3 linked regions of the Homo sapiens genome follow. The protein of the gene in region 1 purifies or fractionates together with the protein of each later gene. This does not show direct contact. Each region holds a gene or a part of one and is shown on either strand. Other genes may lie near its edges.

What was found.
Region 2: the proteins of PROSER2 (region 1) and GRPEL1 purify together in Homo sapiens (affinity purification with mass spectrometry; 2 studies listed by BioGRID and IntAct, with this or other methods). This does not show direct contact.
Region 3: the proteins of PROSER2 (region 1) and STK24 purify together in Homo sapiens (affinity purification with mass spectrometry; 3 studies listed by BioGRID and IntAct, with this or other methods). This does not show direct contact.

The regions. Positions count from the first base shown.
Region 1 is NC_000010.11:11,861,356-11,868,355, reverse strand, and holds part of PROSER2 (proline and serine-rich protein 2), read right to left. Parts: exon of another isoform or gene 6,949-7,000; intron 5,540-6,948; exon of another isoform or gene 5,314-5,539; intron 1,826-5,313; coding exon 1,573-1,825; intron 1-1,572.
Region 2 is NC_000004.12:7,065,065-7,072,065, reverse strand, and holds the start of GRPEL1 (grpE protein homolog 1, mitochondrial precursor), read left to right. Parts: upstream 1-4,001; 5' UTR 4,002-4,033; coding exon 4,034-4,095; intron 4,096-5,439; exon of another isoform or gene 5,440-5,886; intron 5,887-6,878; exon of another isoform or gene 6,879-7,001. UniProt on the Homo sapiens protein: Essential component of the PAM complex, a complex required for the translocation of transit peptide-containing proteins from the inner membrane into the mitochondrial matrix in an ATP-dependent manner.
Region 3 is NC_000013.11:98,567,108-98,574,107, forward strand, and holds part of STK24 (serine/threonine-protein kinase 24 isoform b precursor), read right to left. Parts: intron 1-7,000. UniProt on the Homo sapiens protein: Serine/threonine-protein kinase that acts on both serine and threonine residues and promotes apoptosis in response to stress stimuli and caspase activation.

The DNA of each region.
Region 1 (7,000 bases):
TGCAGTGAGCCAGGACTGTGCCATTGCACTCCAGCCTGGGTGGGAGAGAGAGTTCCTGTCTCAGAAAAATGAAAGAAAAATTGTTATGAAAATATGTTAGAGAACAGATGGACAGGTGTAGCTGATTTTTCAAAGAGTGTTTTCCTTGGCATGACTACGTGATCTCACATTTTAAAAGGATCGGCTGGTTCAAATTACTTTTGGAACTCTATTTCAAAGCAGAAGTACAGTAAAAAAGAACAGTACATTACTTCTCCTCTTTGAAGAGATGGCTGCAAACCAAGCTCCATATTTACATGGAATCCATAACCGTAGTATGTGAAGTTCTGAGTAATACATAGCCTTGCTTGAAAGACATACATGTGTACACACGTGTACACACTTTATTTCTAGTGGCTCAAGACAAATGACAGTATTTTATCCTTACCAGGGCAAAAGTAATGTTTCCTCATCCCTTCCAATGTTAAACCCTTGGCCACATTTGTTTTCAGTATCCTTTCCAATCGGGGAAAAAAACTGGAAGATATTTCTCTCTGCCCATTTCCCTCCAGCTCAGGGATCCCCAACAACCCTGGTACTGGTCTGGCCTGTTAGGAACTGGGGCGCACAGCAGGACGTGAGTGGTGAGCGAGTGAAGCTTCATTTGTATCTACAGCCTCTACCCATGGCTCGCATTACCGAGCTCCACCTCCTGCCACGTCAGCAGTGGTATGAGATTCTCTTTCTTTTTTTGAGACAGGGTCTCGCTCTGCCACCCAGGCTGGAGTGCAGTAGCACGATCTCAGCTCACTGCAACCTCTGCCTCCTAGGTTCAAGTGATTCTTGTGCCTCAGCCTCTGGACCAGCTGGGACTACAGGTGTGCGCCAGCTAATTTTTGTATTTTTAGTAGAGATGAGATTTCACCGTGTTGGCCAGGCTGGTCTTGAACTCCTGGCCTCAAGTGATCCATGGCGCCCAGCCTGTAAAATAGAATAATTACCTGGAAGCCATTTCCAATTTTCTTTCTGTGCATGTATGCATTGTGTATTTAAAAAAATGTAAACTCTGCTTATGTGCCCAGTTCATTCTTTTTTTTTTTTTTTTTTTTTTTGAGACGGAGTCTCACTCTGTCCCCCAGGCTGGAGTGCACTGGCACAATCTCGGCTCACTGCAAGCTCTGCCTCCCGGGTTCACGCCATTCTCCTGCCTCAGCCTCCTGAGTAGCTGGGACTACAGGCACCCGTCACCATGCCTGGCTAATTTTTTGTATTTTTTAGTAGAGACGGGGTTTCACTGTGTTAGTCAGGATGGTCTCAATCTCCTGACCTCATGATCCACCTGCCTCAGCCTCCCAAAGTGCTGGGATTACAGGCTTGAGCCACCGCGCCTGGCCCATTCCATTCTTTATTCTAGGCCCTCTGGCATTTCCCTTTGCTGGATGATGAAACTGCCAAGGAGTATTTTCCCCTATAAAAATCTGGTAAGACTCAACAACTTCTACTGGCAAACACAGGGGAACACAAAAGAAGTATCTCTGGGTCTCACAGACACCAGGAAACCACATCCCAGGGATGGCCTGTCTTCCCCCTCACCTGCTGCCTGGGTCCCCTCTGGAAGGCCCTCGGCTTCCCCGGCGCCAGGTGCTGGCTGCACTAAGTCGATGACATCTTCAGGCTCGGAGGGACTGGAGGTGCTCTCCTCCAGAGACGGGGAGCAGAGGCAGCACACTCCTCCATCGCACAGCACTGGCTCCTCAAAGTCCTCGTCTAGGGAGTCAATCGTCTCTTCAAAAAACAGGAGCACATCCTTTTCCTCATGGGTGAGGTACTTCAGGCTCTCATCATCCTAGAGTACAGGGATTGGGAACAGAAGAGAGAAAACAAACACTGGCTTCACTAAAGAGACAAAAGCTGAAGCAAAGTTGGGATTGGTCCACAGCCCAGGGCGGAACTCACTGTGTCCCGAGAGTACCCTGCCACACAGTGCCTGCGTGTGCCTCTCCATCACCCAGATGGAAGAGAACGTGTTCCGAAAGGCAGAGCAAACAACAGAGCCTCAAAGCTGTTATAACGGGCCCTCGCCTTGGGGTTCCTAGCAAGTCAATGACAAAAAGCACCCTCTCGGGAGCACACTGGAGAGCTGCAGTCAGCCTACGGCTATCCAACACACTTGTTTTTCCATAATCACGGGAAACCTCTGCTTAAAGATGGTGGATTGAACTCACATATTTATCTCCTTTCTCACCAGAAACCGTACTAAAACGAAGGGATTTTTTTTTTAAGGCACAAATCACAATGACAAAATAACAGGAAGAGAGATGGTGGAGCACGCATCATCTTTGGGGAACCTGAAGAATCCAACAGCCAAAAGCAGGGCAGCCGGAGAGCAGGACAGGTGGAAACTGACTGAGAAGGCCCAGGAAAGCCAGTGACCCACCTGCTGCATCCCGAAGAACTGCCCAGAAGCTCAGGCCCTGGAGGTGCTGAGCGGCTCTGGAAGTGTGGGCAAGGTGACGGTGAAGAGAGCTGAACTGTTTGAAAGTCTCTTTCAGAAGCAATGAGCTCATCCCGGCACAAAACTCGCCAGTTACTCTCGAAAAAGGTGACAGAGGAACCCTGAAGTGGGGCCACGGAGCAAAGCTGACGGTGGAGTGCCGTGTTAACAGTGTGGGCTGTCAGTGCAGCCAAGTGACCGCCCTCCAGATGGAGGACTGTGCATGTCATCTCTGGGGAACCCGAGGAATCCAAGAGCCAAAAAAGGCTGATCCCAAGGGTTCCCCAGCAAGATCAATCCACAGGTAAAGATTACAGTCAACGAATCCCAGTGTAGAACTGCGCAGCAGTTTCTTACTGTCCTACTCTGGAGTATGCGCAGATATCTAATAACCACCGAGCATCTGAGGAAAACTGTTAATGTGAAACAGCTATCAAAATCAAAGGATAGAAAAGCAACTTACAGGAAATGAACTATGTGGAGTGATGGAAAACTTCAAAAAGGCTATCATCAGTTGTCAGATAAGAGGGGATACTGAATCCATAAACAGCATGATTTTTTTTCTTTACAGGACAAAAGAAGACTTAGAAATAAATAAAAAATACTAACAGCACAAAAAAATGAAAAACTAAATAAAAGCCTAAAAGATAAAGTTGTAAAATCAGAAAACTATGAAAAAAAAGGATAAGAAAATCAAAGGATGGATCTGGGAGGGCCACTATGTGAATAATGAGAGTTCCAGAGAGAGAAATCAGAGAAAATGAGAGGAAGAAATTATAAAATAAAATAATTCAGGGAAATGCCCCTAAACAGGAACAGGTGAGTTTCCAAACTGAAAGGGGTCCTTAGTGTACAACCTAATGAATAAAAATCAAACAGACCCATGCCAAGGTATGCATCATTGTGACATTTCAGAATACTGAAAGCCAAGAAAAGATCTGGAAAGCTTCCCAGAGTGAAAAAGCAGGTCACATACAAAAGATCAGAAATCAGAAGCCAGGTGCGGTGGCTCACGCCTGTAATCCCAGTACTGTGGGAGGCCGAGGTGGGTGGATCACTCGAGCTCCAGAGTTCGAGCCCAGGCTGGCCAACATGGTAAAATCCTGTCTCTACTAAAGATACAAAAATTAGCCGGGCATGGTGGTGTGCACCTGTAATCCCTGCTACTTAGGAGGCCGAGGCAGGAGAATCACTTGAACCTGGGAGGCAGAGGTTGCAGTGAGCCAAGACTGCACCACTGCACTCCAGCCTGGGTGACAGAGCAAGACTCTGTCTCAAAAAAAAAAAAAAGAAAAAAAAAATTCAGAAATCAGAATTTGATAACTGCCTAAGTTACGTAAGAGAATAGTATCCTTGTTTTTAAAATGTACTTCAGTATTGAGGGGAGCATTATGTAGCAACTACATTCAAATGGTTCAGAAAAAATAAAGTGTGCGTGTGTTGTGTATATAGAGAGAGCGCATGTTAAAATGTGGAAAAAATTTAAAAATTGGTGAATCTAATTAAAGCGTAGGTGGGAGTTCTCTGTACTATTCTTATAACTTCATTAAGTTTGAAATAACTTCCAAACAATTTAAACAAACAAAAGATCAGGAATCAGAAAACAGCAACAGACTTCTCAGCAGCAACACCAGAAGCCGGGAGACAATGGGGGCTCAAAACCCGGATAAATTGTGAACTAGGATCCTATACATAATCCGATTATTAATTAGAACTACGGAAGAATAAAGGTGTTTTTAAGTCATGCAAGGTCTTCAATCTGATCTCCCATGTCAGCCTGTCTGAGGAAGCCTCTGCAGGGTAGTCAGGAAGGGCAGCTGTTCCTCTAAACACGGAGTAAACCCAGACAGAAGACACGGAGCCAGGTAACAGAAGCGTCCACATGAGAAAGCTGCAGGGAATCCCAGAATAACGAGGGCTCCCCAGGAAGCCACCTGTGCGCTCAGCAAGTAGTCTAGTTCACAACAAGCCCAAGGGTGGCAAAGGAAACCATGCAAGCAAAACCGAAACCATGAGCAACCACAGAAAAACTAATGTGAGAGAAAGCATTTATCTATCATCTGTGCACAGCAACATACACACCGACACCATAACAGAGTTGTCTCAGATTGAAATTGTGCATACTTAATACAGACACATGAAAAAAACAAAGGATATATAGCAATATGTCAATAGTGGAGGTAAATAACAAATAGGTAGAGTTAAGAGCTGTTGCCTCCCATTGAGTAGGAAATGGAGGTGGTACATGCGGACTGATGCTTTTATAAACCTTATAGACTATTTGACTCTATAATGCTATGAGTGTGGACTCTGCTTCTGCTGTACTTTTTTTTTTTTTTGTGGGGGGGATGGTTTCACTCCCGTTGCCAGGCTGTTGAGTGCAGTGGCGCGATCCTGACTCGCTGTAACCTCTGCCCCCAGGGCTCAAGTGGTTCTCCTGCCTCAGCCTCCAGAGATGCTGGGACTACAGGTGCACGTCTGTGCCCTGCTAATGTATTTTTTTTGTCTTATCAGAAGTGATTGAGAGCTGATCCATGTGGTGTAGTCTGATGCTTTCCACACTGTGATCTGAGAGGTATTCAAATGCCCACCTACCCAAAGCATCTAACTCCCAGGCCCATACAGAGCCTGTGGTCTACACAATTTCAGAGACTATAGTTGAAAGCATAGTACACTGTTGTTTTGGGGATGAAAACACAAGAACACATGCAAATTTCTCAAGCTAGCCTGGTCTTATTAGCTTAATCCTGAAAGAAGGATGTCTCAGGAAAAGGAGAGATACCTAGGCACGGGTTAGGTAGGCAGGCAGAACATTGCTAGGGAAGATAAGCAATGCGTACCTGTTGGATATAAACCTATGCACAATCGCCGGGTCTGAAGATGTGTGTCTGCTTGGGTGGGTGGACACAGCTTTCCGAAGTGGTTGTACTGACTGACACTTGCTTTCGGCAGGGCTGGTTGCTCTAGCGCCCTGAAGGAGAGGAATGCAGTCATATTTCACTGTGATTTTCAGTGTCATTTCCACGAAGACTAATGATGTTGAGCTTTTTTTTCTCCATAATACAGGTGAGTACTCCTCATCGGAAATGTTTGGGATAAGAAGTGTTCTGGATTTTTTCACATTTTGAAATATTTGCATATACATAATGAAATATTGATGTTTTGTATATGCCTTTTGTTGATTTTTTGGAGACCGTGTCTCACTCTGTTGCCCAGTCTACAGTGCAGTGGTACAATCACAGCTCATTGCAGCCTAGGTCTCCCCAGCTCAAGTGATCCTCCCACCTCAGCCTCCCCAGTGGCTGGAACTACAGGCAAACACTACCATACCCAGCTAATTTTTATATATTTTTTGTAGAGACAAAGTCTTGCTACATGGCCCAGGCTGATCTTGAACTCCTGGGCTCAGGCAGTCCTCTGGCCTCAGCTTCCCAAAGTGGTGTTATTGTAGGCATGAGCCACTGTGCCCATTCTATAGTAAGTCTTGATATCTGGCAGAGTCCTCCAGTTTTGTTGGAGTTCTTAAAGTCTTCCTTAAGTCTGTTTAGCTTTCTTAGTCCTTTTTTATTTCCACATAAATTTTAGTATCAGTTTGTCAATTTGCATATTCACATAAACACACGCATGCCCCTGTGGTGACTTTAAGCGGGATTTGCATGAAAGTTTCTCAAATTGCAGAGAACTGATGTCTCTGCGATCTTTTCTTGACCCATGAATATGGCTCATGGCTTCATTTATTTAGATGTGTGGTTCTCAAAGTGTGGTGTCTGGACCAGAAGCAGCATCTGTGAACTTGTCAGAAACATTCCTGGGTCCGATCCCAGACCTGCCGCATTAGAAACTCTCAGGCGCTGGGCCTGTCAGTCTGTGTTGGACGCAGCCTCCAGGGAGTCTGATGCGCTGACAGTTTAGATGCACAGATCTGGCTCTTTAATTTCTCTCAATGTTTCTCATAGTTTCCAGTGTAGACATCTTGCACGTTTTCTGCCCTATGTCTTCCTAGGTATTTGCTATGGCTCCGCCTACCCTTCACAGTTAACTTTCCACCATTCTCTCCTTTATATTCCTCGGGAGGCATGGCCAACTCTTTGGTAAAGGGCCAGGTAGTGAATATTCTGGGCTGTGCAGGCTTTAGGGTAGCAGCTTCTCAACTCTACCAAGGTAAGGAATGAGCCTCACTTTTGTTACACTGAACTGTATTTACAAAAGCACGGAGTGGGGGCAGCTACGGGCCACAGGCTATGGTTTGTCGCTTCTTGCTCCCTGCTCAAGTCCATCACTGGCTCTTCCTATGTCGGCTTCTAAGGCAGCGACGCCCATCCGTGCACGGCTGCATCTCACCTACTTTCACGGCCGGATTTCAAACCTCAGCCCACCCCCACAGCATCCCCTGAATCACAGCCACACACACGCACCTGCTAAGCACACAATCCAGTACCACAGTATAAATCATGCTCCTGCTGTCTAGAGCTTACCACCCAATGAGGGCTTCAGATAAGATCAGCAACTGCCCTAGAGTGTGGAACT
Region 2 (7,001 bases), on another chromosome or scaffold:
TACAAGGTCTAAATCAAGGTGGTGGCTGGAATGAACTCTTACCTGGAGGCTCTGGAGGAGAATCCGCTTCTGGGTGCATTCAGGTGGCCCTGAAAGTCCAGCTCCTGGTGCCTGCAGACCTGGGGTCCTCATTCCATGGCTGGGGGCCACTCTCTGCTCCTATAAGTCACTCACACACCTTCTCACACAACCCCTTCCTCCTTCAAACCAGCAATGTTAATTCCAGCCTTTCTCACACATTGAATTTGACCTTCTTTTCTGCTGACAGCTGGAAAAGCTCCCTGCTTTCATTAGGCTCATGAGGTCAAGCCCACCAGATAATCTCTGATCTCAAGGTCAGATGGCTTGGGACTTTCATTCCTTCGTCAAAGTCCCTGCACAGCAGCACCTAGGCTAGTGTTTAACTGAACAGCCAGGGGTACGAATCAGTGGGCCCACCTTTAGAATTCTGTCTGCCACACCCATCATATCGTATCTTTCTAAATTTGCTTCTTTCAAAATTGAATAAAAGGATGAAAATCCACGCCCTCGCCAGAGGATCACAGCAATGCAGCTCATGGCAGCAATCACCCTGCGCTGGACACGTGTGGGTTCTGGCTTCAGCCTTGACGCAGAATCTGGGGTCAGGAGAAATACACAAGAGTTCTGCCTTCCTTTCACCCACATGACCTTGTGCAAGTCACCTAACCTGGCTGAGCCCGGTCCCCTCCTCGCCACAGATGGGCTGATCCACAAGAGGACATCTTTGAAGCACCCAGCACACAGCCTGGTACCCCGGCAGTGCTCAGCTGCTATGAGCACCGCGCCCACGGTCGACAGACTGTCAGACCATCTGCACGACCTTTTTTTCTTTTTAAAAACACCACTCAATCCTTGTTAGGGGCACCACGTGCTGTACAGTCGGCTCTTCCGGCACCCCCAGTCCCTGGCTAGCCCACCCATGCCCATTGCTGGACATGTGCTCAGACGACTGATCCAAGAGTCTTCCATACAGGCAGCTTCACCTCCACGTGAAGATAACTTGCACTGTGGTGCAGTTCCAGACCTCAAGGAGCTACCTGACCAGGTAGGTTCCCAAGAGCAGACTGCCTTTGGAGCAGTTCCTGAAGTGGCCACGAGGTGGCAGGCCTTTCCCTGGCAGATCAGAGAAATCCCGCAGTTCCAGATACAGACACAGGGCAGGGCATGGCCTGGCCTCAGCGGAGGTTCACAGTCCCCAAGGTGGCATCCCCTCTGGGACGACCTGTGCTTATCTGTCTTGAGGCACAGCAGCTACAATTCTTCATCAGGATCGGAGCTGCAAGACGCCCATCTGATTCCTTCCGAGCCCCAAAGGAAGGAAATGAACATGTTTCTTTTTTAAATCTCACAACAAATAATGTCTCAGTTCTACAGGTGAGCAGATCCAAGGTTGAAAGCAATGAAGTTACTTGGTCACAGCCAATAAGAAACATGAGATACTGTTTTGTTTTGTTTTGTTTTGTTTTTGTTTGTTTTTTGAGACGGAGTCTTGCCCTATTGCCCAGGCTGGAGTGCAGTGGTACCATCTCGGCTCACTGCAACCTCTGCCTCCCGGGTTCAAGCGATTCTCCTGCCTCAGCCTCCCGAGTAGCTGGGATTACAGGTGCCCGCCACCATGCCCAGGTAATTTTTTTCTTTTTTTGTATTTTTTTAGTACAGACGGGTTTTCACCATGTTGGCCAGGCTGGTCTCGAATTCCTGACCTCAGATGATCGACCCGCCTCGGCCTCCCAAAGTGCTGGGATTACAGGCATGAGCCACTGTGCCCGGCCGAGACACTTTTAAATTTTATTGCAGAAAGGCTGGGTGTGGTGGCTCACGCCTCTAATCCTAGCACTTTGGGAGGCTGAGGAGGCCGGACTGCTTGAACTCAGCAGTTCGAGACCAGCCTGGGTAACATGGTGAAACCCCGTCTCTACTAAAAAGACGAAAAATTAGCCAAGCATGGTGGCACACACCTCTAATACCAGCTACTAGGGAGGCTGAGGCATGAGAATCGCTTGAACCGGGAGGCAGAGTTTGCAGTGAGCTGAGATCGCGCCACTGCACTCCAGCCTGGGCAACAGAATGAGACTCTGTCTCAAAATATATATATAAAATAAAATAAATTTTATCGCAGAAAACTACAAACATATGCAAAAGAAAATCGTCATAACTCCTATGGCATTCATCACCCAGCTTCAACCGTTACTAACATTTGCCACTTGTGTTTCACCTGTCCTTGAATTTTTTTTCATGGAGAATTTACAAAGCGAATACCAGACATAGGGGCAATTTGCTGTAAATACTTCCGTTTGCATCTCTAAAGGTTAGGACATTTTACCCACCAGCCGTTACTGCTCCCTACCAAAAGTATCGATACTCCCAGTTTTCATCTAATACCCAGCTTTATATTCCAATTTCCCCCACCTATCTCTCAAATGCCCCGTTTAAGCTAGTTTATTCTATCATGATCCAAGTAAGTTCCACACATTCCATTCAATGACGTCTTTTAAGCTCATTTATTCTCTAATAGTTCAGTTCCACTTTCTTTTGTTTCCTCCAGGCTCGAATTAATTATATTATCATCATAATTATACTATTATCTTAATTATTGGTATTAATTGACACGGTCATTTGTCCTGTACAACATCCCATTTGGGGTTTAGCTGTTTGCGTCTTTCTGCAAGGGGCATATTACCTGGCAAACAGTAGGTATTAATCAGCATGGGTTGAATGGTTTCAATGGCAGAAAAGCAAAAGAATAAAGGTTTGGTCCTTTACTCAAGTGGTCCTACATTCACTAATGTAACAAGCAGGCAAAACTCCGCTTGAGAAGCCACCAGCTCGCGCCCTGGGATCCTGGGGAGGGCATGGGCTCCAGCCCTGGGATCCCGGGGAGGGCACAGGATCGAGCCCTGGGATCCCGGGGAGGGCAGGGACTCTAAGTCTGGGATCCTGGTGAGGGCACGGGCTACAGCCCTCAGATCTTGGCCGCCAGAACTGCACTCCAGGCCACGCGGTGCTGAAGCGGGAGCCAGGCCCTATCTCCTGCGGGAACCCCGCTTGGGGGCCGGCACCGGGGCCATAAGAACACGCGGCCCTCTGTTCTTGGGGGTATGCGCTACAGCAGCATGGACCTCGGTCAGGTTATGAAAACGTGTGCATTTATGAGCTTTAGTTGTGCCCCAATGTTTTCTATGCGCTGTTCTTAGTCTGTTTTTCGTGTTTTGAGAAAACTGAAGATAACAGAAAGGTACAAAACACACGCCCATATTCCCATCATCCAGCATCAAAACCGCCAACATTTCGTCCCATTTGTTTCCCGGGTTTTGTTTCCTGTTTCACCAGAAATCACTGGTGGAGACGGAGACCCCAGTGCCTTCTCTCCGCCTCGGGCGCCTGGAGAAGCAGCTTCGGGGTCGGGGCGCCCTCCCAAGCGGTTGCCTCCGCGGTTCTCAAGCAACTACGCCGCCGTTTGGGTGGCGCTCGCGCCGAGACTTCATTTTCATTTAGCAAACATGGAGTGCTCCGCGCCGCTCTGGAGCCGGGGTGTGAGGGTGAACAGGGCTCCCCACGCTCGTTCCCAGAGCAAAGGAAGGCCCGCGGTGTCAGCGCAAGGGCGGGTGCGGGCCGGGAAACGACAAGCTGCCGCCTCACTCCTACCCAAAACCAGGCTCTGAAGTCCCTCCCGGCCCGCGACGCGCGCGCCCCACCCCGGCGCTGGCCCCGCCCCCTCACGCTGCCTCCTCATTGGCTCCTCCCGGCATCGCCACGCCCACAGGAGGCTCCTCCCAATGCTCACTTCACCTTTCACCTCTTCAGGGCCTCCGGTACGCCTCAGGCCCCGCCCACCGGGGGGTGGGGAAAGATGCTCTTCCGTGACCCACAATTATTGGTGACTATTGCCTGTCCATAACAGGAAAAGCGATTACGGATTGGCTGAGGCGAAGTAGTAGGGCAGAAAAGTGGGTATAGCTGCCTGCACGCACGCTTGGTGCGTGCGCGGCGACTGCGACGGGCAGTGGCAGTCATGGCGGCTCAGTGCGTGAGGTTGGCGCGGCGCAGTCTTCCTGCTTTGGCGTTGTCTCTCAGGTAAGGGGCACTTGGTCTCCCTGGGTGGAGGTGGCAGCGCGACCTCCCGCTCCGATGGGGGCCTTTCCCGGCCCCGGGGCCTCCTTCCCGGCCTCGGCCCCGGAGCTGGGCATCTCCGGGCTCGCGGTTCCCCGCCGCGGGACGCGGACCGCCCCGCTGGGGCCTGCTCTGCTGCCAGGCTGCCAGCTCAGGGCTTGGGAAGCGTGGAGCGGGCGGGCGCCGTGTCAGGAGGAGAGGACCGCAGCGCGGGGGGCGTTTGGCTCGGAAGGTACGGTGGCCCACGTGCGCGTGTGGTCCAGGGCCTGCGGCGACGCCTCGCGCGCATTCACGGTCTCGGCGCTCACGGGCGCAGAGGCAGCCGCAACTTGTGCGGTTGAAGAAGCGACCAAAGAAGCTCGAGCTTTGTCCAAGGTCACGCAGCGAGGCCGAGCCGGGCCGGGTGTGCCCTGGGCAGGAGCTGTGGTTACTCATTTCCGTGCCGCAGCTCGAGGCCGGGGCCACAGCGGTGCTCGGGAAACTTCGTGTCGCAAGGTGCGTGTTGCCCGTTCACGGGCTTTTTCCACTCGACCTCGAATTCCTTCACTCCGCCTTCTCCAGCGTCTGAGGTCAAAAGAGCAGTCGAACCTGTGCTGCTGCTGGGCGAAGAGTTTGTTTAGACAAGGGCACATTTCGGGCCTGAGGGCCACGAGACAGTGCCCCTTTTTTTTTTTCCCCTCAAATCTGCCCCTTCTGCTTTTTGAAAGTTCTACTTTAGAAGTTAGTATGGCAAGTACTTGCTGGAGGAAGTGCCTAGAACCAAGTTATTGATTAGAGAAGCCACTGAGGGCCAAATTGGCCAAAAGCTGGGCAGTGAGATGTAGTTCTTTCCTGAAGGAGAGCAGGCAGGTGAGGTGAAGATCACTTTCAGTCTAGGTGATTAAGGGGTAAGTGCTAGCTTAATAAATTATATCTTAACAACACAGGAGCCAAGAGCAACGACCCACGTGGAATACTTGAGTAAAAAGACTTTGGTCAAGTAATTGGTGGTTTTGTATTGGAATTAATTGCCAGGAAAGTGACCACCAAGTCAGCATCATTTCTGTCTCTAGAATGGTAGTTTTGTGGAAAGATGCTCAACTAGGGAAAGGCAGGAGAACTGACTGGTAGTCATAGCTCTCAGAGTAACTAGGCTTTCTGAGACTCAGTTTCCCTCTGCAGAACGAGATGGCCCCGGGTGTGGGTCCTGTTGCACATTCCTGGCCACACTTTGTGTTGGCTGTGCTTCGGAAAGGGGTCTGTGAAGAGCTGACCTGCAGAAAGGCTGGTGGCTGTCACACCCCCAGGCAGAACAACTGGAGAGGAAGGTGGGCTTCACAACAGTACACTCAGTTTTTATTTAAATTCTTAGCTTTTTAAATTCACAAGAGTAAAAATATAAAATGGTCATCGCTCTCCACCCCCATGGCAAGACTGTAATGGAGGCTTCCACTCCACTTCTTTCCACAGATCTAAGATATTAATAAGTACACAGGATTTCTAGTTTGTCTTTACAAAAATAGGATCCTGTTTTGTGTATTTCTCTGTAAGTTGCATTTCTTAACAGAACATCCAAAGTGTATCCAATAAATGGCAGTTTAACTCATTTTTAGGAGCTGCATAATATTCCAGATTGTGTTAGCAAGTTTATTCAACCATTTGCTCGCTGACAAACATTGTTTCCAACTTGTCGCTCGCAGTGCTGCAATAAACAGCCTTGACTGAGTTCTGTGTGCTGGCAGCCTTCACCTTCCTATTCGTTGAAGCAGTTTTAATCTGGGAAGAAAATTGAATGTAGCTTATTCTCAGATAGGACTGTGGCCTAATTTAAAAAGAGGTCCTGGCCGGGTGCGGGCGGATCACGAGGTCAGGAGATCCTAGACCATCCTGGCTAACACAGTGAAACCCCGTCTCTACTAAAAAAATACAAAAAAATTAGCCGAGCGTGTTGGTGGACGCCTATAGTCCCAGCTACTCGGCAGGCTGAGGCAGGAGAATGGCGTGAACCCGGGCGGCGGAGCTTGCAGTGAGCCGAGATGGCACCACTGCACTCCAGCCTGGGTGACAGAGCAAGACTCCGTCTCAAAAAAAAAAAAAAAGAGGTCCTCTGGTCCTGGTGAAGAAATCTAGGTTTTAAGACTTTATTTTATCATTCGTTGATGGCTTTGTGACCTGGGCTTATCACTTGGTCTTGGTCTATTTCACCGGTACATATCCCATGCTTTCCTGTCTTCATGCCTTTGTCCAAGCAGTTTCATCTTCCTGAAGCTGCATCTATCCCATTGTCCCACCTCTGATCCCTTTTTCGTAACTCTTACCTATCCTACAAAGCCTTTCATGGTTTTCCATTCCCCAAGCTAGGTATCTCCTTCTACTCTGAGCCTCCCAAAGCACAAAGCACTTAGTTCCCTTTTTTTTTTTAATCACTTTTTTTTTTTTTTGAGACAGAGTTTCCCTCTTGTCGCCCAGGCTGGAGTGCAGTGGCGCGATCTCAGCTCACCTCAACCTGCGCCTCCCTGATTCAAGCGATTTTCCTGCCTCAGCCTCCCAAGTAGCTGGGATTACAGGCATGCACCACCACGCCAGGCTAATTTTGTATTTTTAGAAGAGACGGGGTTTCTCCATGTTGGTCAGGCTGGTCCCGAACTCCTGATCTCAAGTGATCCACCTGCTTTGGCCTCCCTAAGTGCTGGGATTACTGGCGTGAGCCAGCGAACCTGTCTTAATCACTTTTAAATCACAAATTACTGTTCTTTGTGTTTAGATACCTTTTTTTTGCAAGATCTCTGCTGGGTCTATCTTTGTCATCAGGATCAGCAGTAGGCCAGCCTCACTCTAGTAGTAGCTATTCCATAAGTACGTGGTTAGGTCTGGGCAGACTGTCTCAGTCA
Region 3 (7,000 bases), on another chromosome or scaffold:
CCCCAAAGAAGAGCTTTCGCTGTTTAGATACGCACCCTTCAAGTCCTCCATCCATTAACATGCTATGGATTTATGGCCAGCGCTGTGCAGTGCCCCCAGCGCGCAGACACCACTGACTCTGCAACATGCAATCTGCTAACACATGGCCACTGGGACAGCCACATAACACCCAGGCCCTCTGACGGGCTATTCGGCATCTGTGGCACACGTGTGCCCCAGTCCTGCACCGACCACCACGGAACATACGACCAGACTGATGCCACCTCCGCCCTGCCAAGAAGCACATACTCAATTCTGGACCAGGGGGTTGGAACCCCAAAGCATCATAAACTTAAGCAAGCGTTTCTCCAGAGAGATCCTATGAGGCTCCCGGACATCGTTCTGTGTCCACAGGATCTTGGGACCAAAAAAATGAGAGAAGCAAGAAGAGCAGGTTCTCAGTTCAAGTTGGGGAGGTGGAGGCCACCGACCAGTAGAGAGATGGAAAAATAAGCAGACATGTATACTGCTGTTTATTTACAGGGAGAAAATAAGAGGCACAATCTCATGATGAAGAGAACGGAGGCTCCGAGTTCTTGCCCGCCGCCCTGGCCCAGCAGTCAGTCCTAGCTCTTGGAATTTCCTCACCTGCCTGGCCCTGTCTTTATTCACCTATAAACTGAAGAATAGCAACTTGGAGGTAGAGGGGTCACACAGACAGCAGCATCTAATTGGGTCAATCCTGAAATCCCACTAAAATCATAAATCTAAAAACCACCACATACCTGAAACAGAGAGAAGACAACTGCAATGAAATCTCAGAAGCTGGAAAGTAGGTAGTGGTTTAAAAAAAAAAAGGGGGGGGGTGGGGAGTAGAGGAAGACAACGCTAAACCGGAGGTGCAGAAAACAGAGAACTTTTTTTTTTTTTGGAGGCACAGTCTCGCTCTGTCGCCCAGGCTGGAGTGCAATGGCGCGATCTCGGCTCCCTGCAACTTCCGTCTCCTGGGTTCAAGCAATTCTGCCTCAGCCTGCCAAGTAGCTGGGATTACAGGCGTGTATCATCACGCCTGGCTAATTTTTGTGTTTTTGGTAGAGAAGGGGTTTCACCATGTTGGTCAGGCTGGTCTCGAAATCCTGACCTCAAATGATCCACCCGCTTCGGCCTCCCAAAGTGCTGAGATTACAGGCATGAGCCATCGCGCCGGGCCAGCAGAGAACTAACTTAACTCACAGTGCTGGACCCCCGGCTCTCAGGAACTGACGGCACCAGTCCCTCTGCCGGGGGAATGAGTGAACCAGGCAGAGCCTCAAAGTCAGCCACAGAAGTGGGTAGACAGCCAGACAGCTTGCCCCACATCTCACAGCCAGGCTCCCAAAGTCAAGGAAATGATGAAAATATATTATCTGCAAAGGAAGGAAAAATTGAGGATATATGGACCAGGCTGCAGCAGACACAGCCGGAAGCAGAGGCAGCATACTTAAAAATGGGGAATGAAGGCCGGGGATGGTGGCTCACACCTGTAATCCCACCACTTTGGGAGGCCGAGGCATGTGGATCACCTGAGGTCAGGAGTTCGAGACCTGCCTGCTCCACATGGTGAAACCTCATCTCTACTAAAAAATACAAAAATTAGCCAGGCATGGTGGTGGGCGCCTGTAATCCCAGCTACTCGGGAGGCTGAGGCAGGAGAATCACTGGAACCTGGGGGGGCAGATGTTGCAGTGAATGAAGATCACGCCATTGCACTCCAGCCTGGGTGACAGAGCGAGACTCCATCTCGAAAAACAAAAAAGATAAAAGAATATTTGAGGGCCGATGCAGAAGGTTCACCATCCAAGTAATAAAGTTTCAGAAAGAAAGAACACAGAAAATGGAAGGGGGGAGGGGAATCAAAGAAAAAAGTCAATGAAAAGATCTGAGTCGCTTCACAGAAAAGGCCTAACCAAGTATCTGTCACGAGAAACGAAAACAGCCCCACTCCAAGCCACATCATTGTGAAACTTCAGAACTCAAGGAAAAAGTTCAGATCCCATTAGGTCCAGGAAGAACAGCACAGCCTGCACACACAGAAGCCGGTGCTGGCAGGGCCTCCATCTTCAACAGCAACACTGGAAGCTAAAACACAGTGGAGAAACACCTTTAAAATTCTGGAGGAAATGAATGTCCACCCTGCAATTTTACACCATGCTAAAATATCAACTGAGGGAGAAGAAAAAAAATTTTTGAAAAGCCTGTCTCCCACGCTGCCTATTCACAGAAAATGGCGCACTATATGCCCAACCAACATCATGGCATAAACCAAGAAAGAAAATGACAGCAGAGACAAAAAAAAAAAAACAAAAAAAAACAAAACAGATATTCAACACAAGAGAGCAGCAGAAGGAACCCAGAGGATGAGAGCAAAGGAAGACCAGAGGATGGGGGTGGCACAAGAAGCATAGAAGATACGCAGGTGACGAAAGGCACAGGTGCCACCCGAACTTCCTAAGACAAGGTTGCAACAACTACAGAGTGCTGGGATGAATGAGAAGCATTACCAAAAGAAAAGAAATCTGATCAGTAACTATGGTTGAGTAATAATGGCTGGGCTGCAGATCCGTCTGCAGTCCATTAATGTACACACCGCATTCTGACCTCACTGACATTACAACATCTCTCTGCTGGGGGAGAGCGGGGAGCCCATGTGAGGAAAAGAGGCAAGCGGAAGAGAAGTAAATCCTCATCCGCAGGGTCCAAAGTCTATAGACAATGCCTGAAACCAGGAAAAAAAAAAAAACACAGGCAGAAATTTTTTTTTTTTTTTTTGAGATGGAGTTTCACTCTGTCACCTAGGCTGGAGTGCAGTGGCACCATCTCAGCTCACTGCAACCTCCGCCTCCCAGGTTCAAAGAATTCTCCTGCCTCAGCCTCCCAAGTAGCTGGGAATACATGCGCCCACCACCACGCCCAGCTGTTTTTTTTGTATTTTTAGTAGAGACAGAGTTTCACCATGTTGGCCAGGCTGGTCTTGAACTCCTGACTTCAAGTGATCCACCTGCCTCAGCCTCCCAACGTGCTGGGATTACAGGCGTGAGCCACCGCCCCCGGTCAATTTTTTAATGTTCCTCATAAACTAAGGAGTAACAAAAACAAAAATCAACCAGGAGAGATCAAAGGGGCTGCCCTCGGGGAATAAGAAATGGCGGGAGGTGGAAGCAGCTGCTATCTTTCCCAACCAACCTTACAAAACTACCCATTAGACATTTCTAAATAGAAACTAAACAAAATCCTAAGTAATTACAAATAAAACAAAGGATGTGGACCTGTAACAGTTCTTTCAAACCTTACGGCCTAAAATTCTCTTAAAAAACAGGAAGAGACTTAAAATAATAGGAAGATAAACCCCAGCTACGTACTTGGTAAGCATTAATTTAAAACTTGAAATGTTCCCACAATGTATTCAGATACCAACAGAGCGCAGAACAGAAAAGGTTTCTTTTGCTGACGAAGAACCCTCAAGAAACACAATGGAAGGTCTCTAGAGTCAACAATGTTGTTCCCTGGGTGCGCATAAAGTGACTGGTAACCACCAATTTGGGATGTTTCACAGTTTGTACCAAGCAAAGGCATATCTCAGTTTATTTCCCCTAATTTAAACCTTGCAAACCAGGGAGCCATTTAGGATTAAGAAACTCCATAGTCACCCTCAGGAGGCAGGTTATTTTTCCCAAAGCATTTGGCACTTATATTTTTTATAATTTCCACTGCAAAAACATGAATTATGGGAAATGACTGCTACAAACTACTCCGACGACAGTGGCTGATTCTACGCGATGAGACATGGATAATAGAGTGCAACTTCTATTTCCTGCACTCACACCACCCACAAGATTCCATTAATGATAATCAGCTGAGCTAAGGCATTAAAAGGCACAGAAAGGTGGCTTGGGTGTGGTCCACTTCCTGCAGGTAAGGAGCTTCCACAAGGGCAGCTCTGAATCATCGGGAGTAATCGCCCAAATAAAGAGCTAAGGGGCCCGTTTCTCAGGAGACCATCGGACGCCTGGACTGCGGCTTTAGAGTGTGTGTAACCGCACAAGCACAGCAGAAAGTAGCAGTGACCATCGACAGGCTCCTCCCTTCAGTAACTGCTCACCCTGCATCTTGCACCAGGGTCCTGGAAAAATACTGAACTGAAAATGAAACTCAACCTGCACCACATTAGGCAGCTCAGCTCTACGCATCAGACCGTAGCTCCAAGAAGAGCATCAAAGTCAGAAAGAGGGTGGGAAAGCAATGATGCCAGCCGCCACCTGCCCATAACTGCTCAGCACAGTTAGCAAGCTAGAAAATCTCATCTGACCAATTCCTACTTGAAGGTCACTTGCTTTTATGTGACATGCTATCAAGAATACTCCCAGATCTGAGACTGGACTCCTCCAAAAGTTTGGGTTTTTCTAATTTAAAAAAACCTTGTGACCATCCTCCCCCTCAAAAAAGAACACTTTCAAGCAAAACAAATTCTTACCATTGTTACATTTTGGAACACGGAGTATTCAAAATAGGTTTTTTGTTTTTTTGACACTTACATAGGCAACTAACTAACAAAACAGTAACTAACAGTAACTGAGTACTTATTACTCTTTAGCACTGATCAGCAAAAAGGATCATAAAGCAAGAGGAGTAATGAGATACTATAAAATGTTCACTGAGAGTTCAAGCCACGAAGCTGAGTGAATGCTAAAAAAATCCACTTAGGCTGTCCTACTGACACCTGGGCTCCCCACTCGCATCCCTGGGCTTCCTCTTCCCTGAAGTGCTGCAATGCCTTCTAAAGGGGCACCCAGCACTCCCCACACCTGAGAAAGCAGGAGCCCCAAAGAACAGGAGATCATCTGCTCAAAAATGTGCCATACTTCCGGCTGTCTACAGATGCAAGGCCTCCCCCAGGCCCACAGGCACCCCACTGCCTCTTCAGCTCCAGGACCGATCTAGATCTAGCCCACCAGAAGCTGTGTCACCGCTTTCCAACCATGTGCCTTTGCTCACTGTGTCCTCAGTCACTGCAACCTTCTTAGAGCACATGCCCCAAAGCAGGCAGCCGACCTCTTGAGGACAGGATGGACTGAGGCTCTGAACTCTGCCTCCAACGACTCCGGGCACTATACTCTGCAGGCTCCCCTGTGCAGTCCAATGCTGTCAGTCACCAGAGCACACTCCACAGTTCAGCAAGTCCCCAAGGTGCTCTCCGAACCCACGTCTCGGATGTCCTGACTGTCCACACCCAGTGACACACCAACCTTCCCCCAGGGTGCAGATGGTAACAGGGTAACTGGGCAGGCACCTCCCAAGGAAGGAACGGAAAAGAACCCGTGGAAATGTGACACTAACAAGAAAAAAAAGTACAAGAGCACTTAAGCCACAATTAAATGCAGCTGTCCTGTGTTTGCCTTCATTTCCCAGACTCCCAGAGTGCACAGGCTTCCCTAGGGTGGAGCAGAGCACTTGAGAAAAGCTCCCCATGTTCCCAGACTGGCCATTAGACACCAGTCTCACTATCCTGATGCAAGGGGCATTCTCAGCAAAGGTCTATTTATCCAAGCAGCAAGAAAAACAGAAGGGGAACGAGGGGGACAGGATGATGTTAACAAGACAAACTTCAGGTTTTTAAGCTATTCCTCTAAATTATCTGTATTTTCAAATATGAAACTATGTTAAACTTACAACTTCAAAACATGGTAAATTAACCAGGCCCTGCAATATGCAATACATGTGACGTATATAATTCAGTATTTTTCAAACTGTGGGTCAGGAATCAGTGGGCTGTGAAATCAATCTAGTGTTGCAACCAGCTCCTTTTTTAAATATACCACAACAGCACATCACAAGCACAGGCTGAGCATCCCTGATCCAAAATGCTCCAAAATATGAAACTTTTCAGCGCCAACATGACACTCAAAGGAAATGCTCATTGGGAGCACTTCTGATTTCGGATGTTCAACAAGCATATAATGCAAATATTCCAAAATTCGAAACACTTGTGGTCCCAAGCATTTTGGATGAGGGATACTCAACCCGTAGTAAGGATTAGTACGGTCTCCTGAAACTTGTTTTTGATCCTGATGTAAAATATATTTCTTACATGGGTCACGGTTCAGAAAAGTTGAAAAGTGACTGATAAAATTTTGTAACAGAAATGTGCAAACCAAAATCTCATTTTTAAATCACATTTCTGCAAACTCAAAGCCGATTGGTGTTCCTGCCTCCATCTGAAGCTTTTCTTTTAATCTCAATTGAGTGAAACAACAAATGCTCAATGAAAGACGGAGTACTTATAGCCACAGATCAGCCTGATTTCTTTATGTTTATTCGTCACTATATTCATTCAGTTTCTGATGTCTATTTTTTTCCCCTACTGAAATATAAAACTGGGGTTTAAGAGAAAAAAAGCAAAGGCTTCAGCAACTTTCATTAAACATTTACTTTAAATGGTAACCTCATTCAGATCTACCACTTTCAACCCCTCCCCTAGGACCTGGCACATGAAAGTTCAATAAGGGTTGCTGATTGAATAAATTAAAAAATCAGCCTCCTATTTCTAATTTCTTTAGCCAATCTAACTAGCAATGAGATAAACTTTAATGTTTGCAAAAGTAACCATAAAACAGTAACACTGCATGATGAGTGGGAGTAGGAGGAGTAGTAGTTTCCAATCACAAATTTGCCACATAATATATGATCTCACCTTGGTCAGTTAAGTCTTCCTTGGTCTCCACATCTACAAAATGGTATAATATCATCTACATCTCAAACGGTACCGGTAAGAATCAAGAGGCATAAAAATGATTTGCAAAACATTGAAAAATGGTGTTTATACTAACATGGTTGTTATTTTTCAAGCATCCTTGCCTAGGCCACCTGAATTCACTCTGCTTTATTTTTTTATTTTATTTTTTTTTTTGAGACGGAGTCTGCCTCTGTCGCCCAGGCTGGGGTGCAACGGCACAATCTCAGCTCAACGCAACCTCCGCCTCCCGGG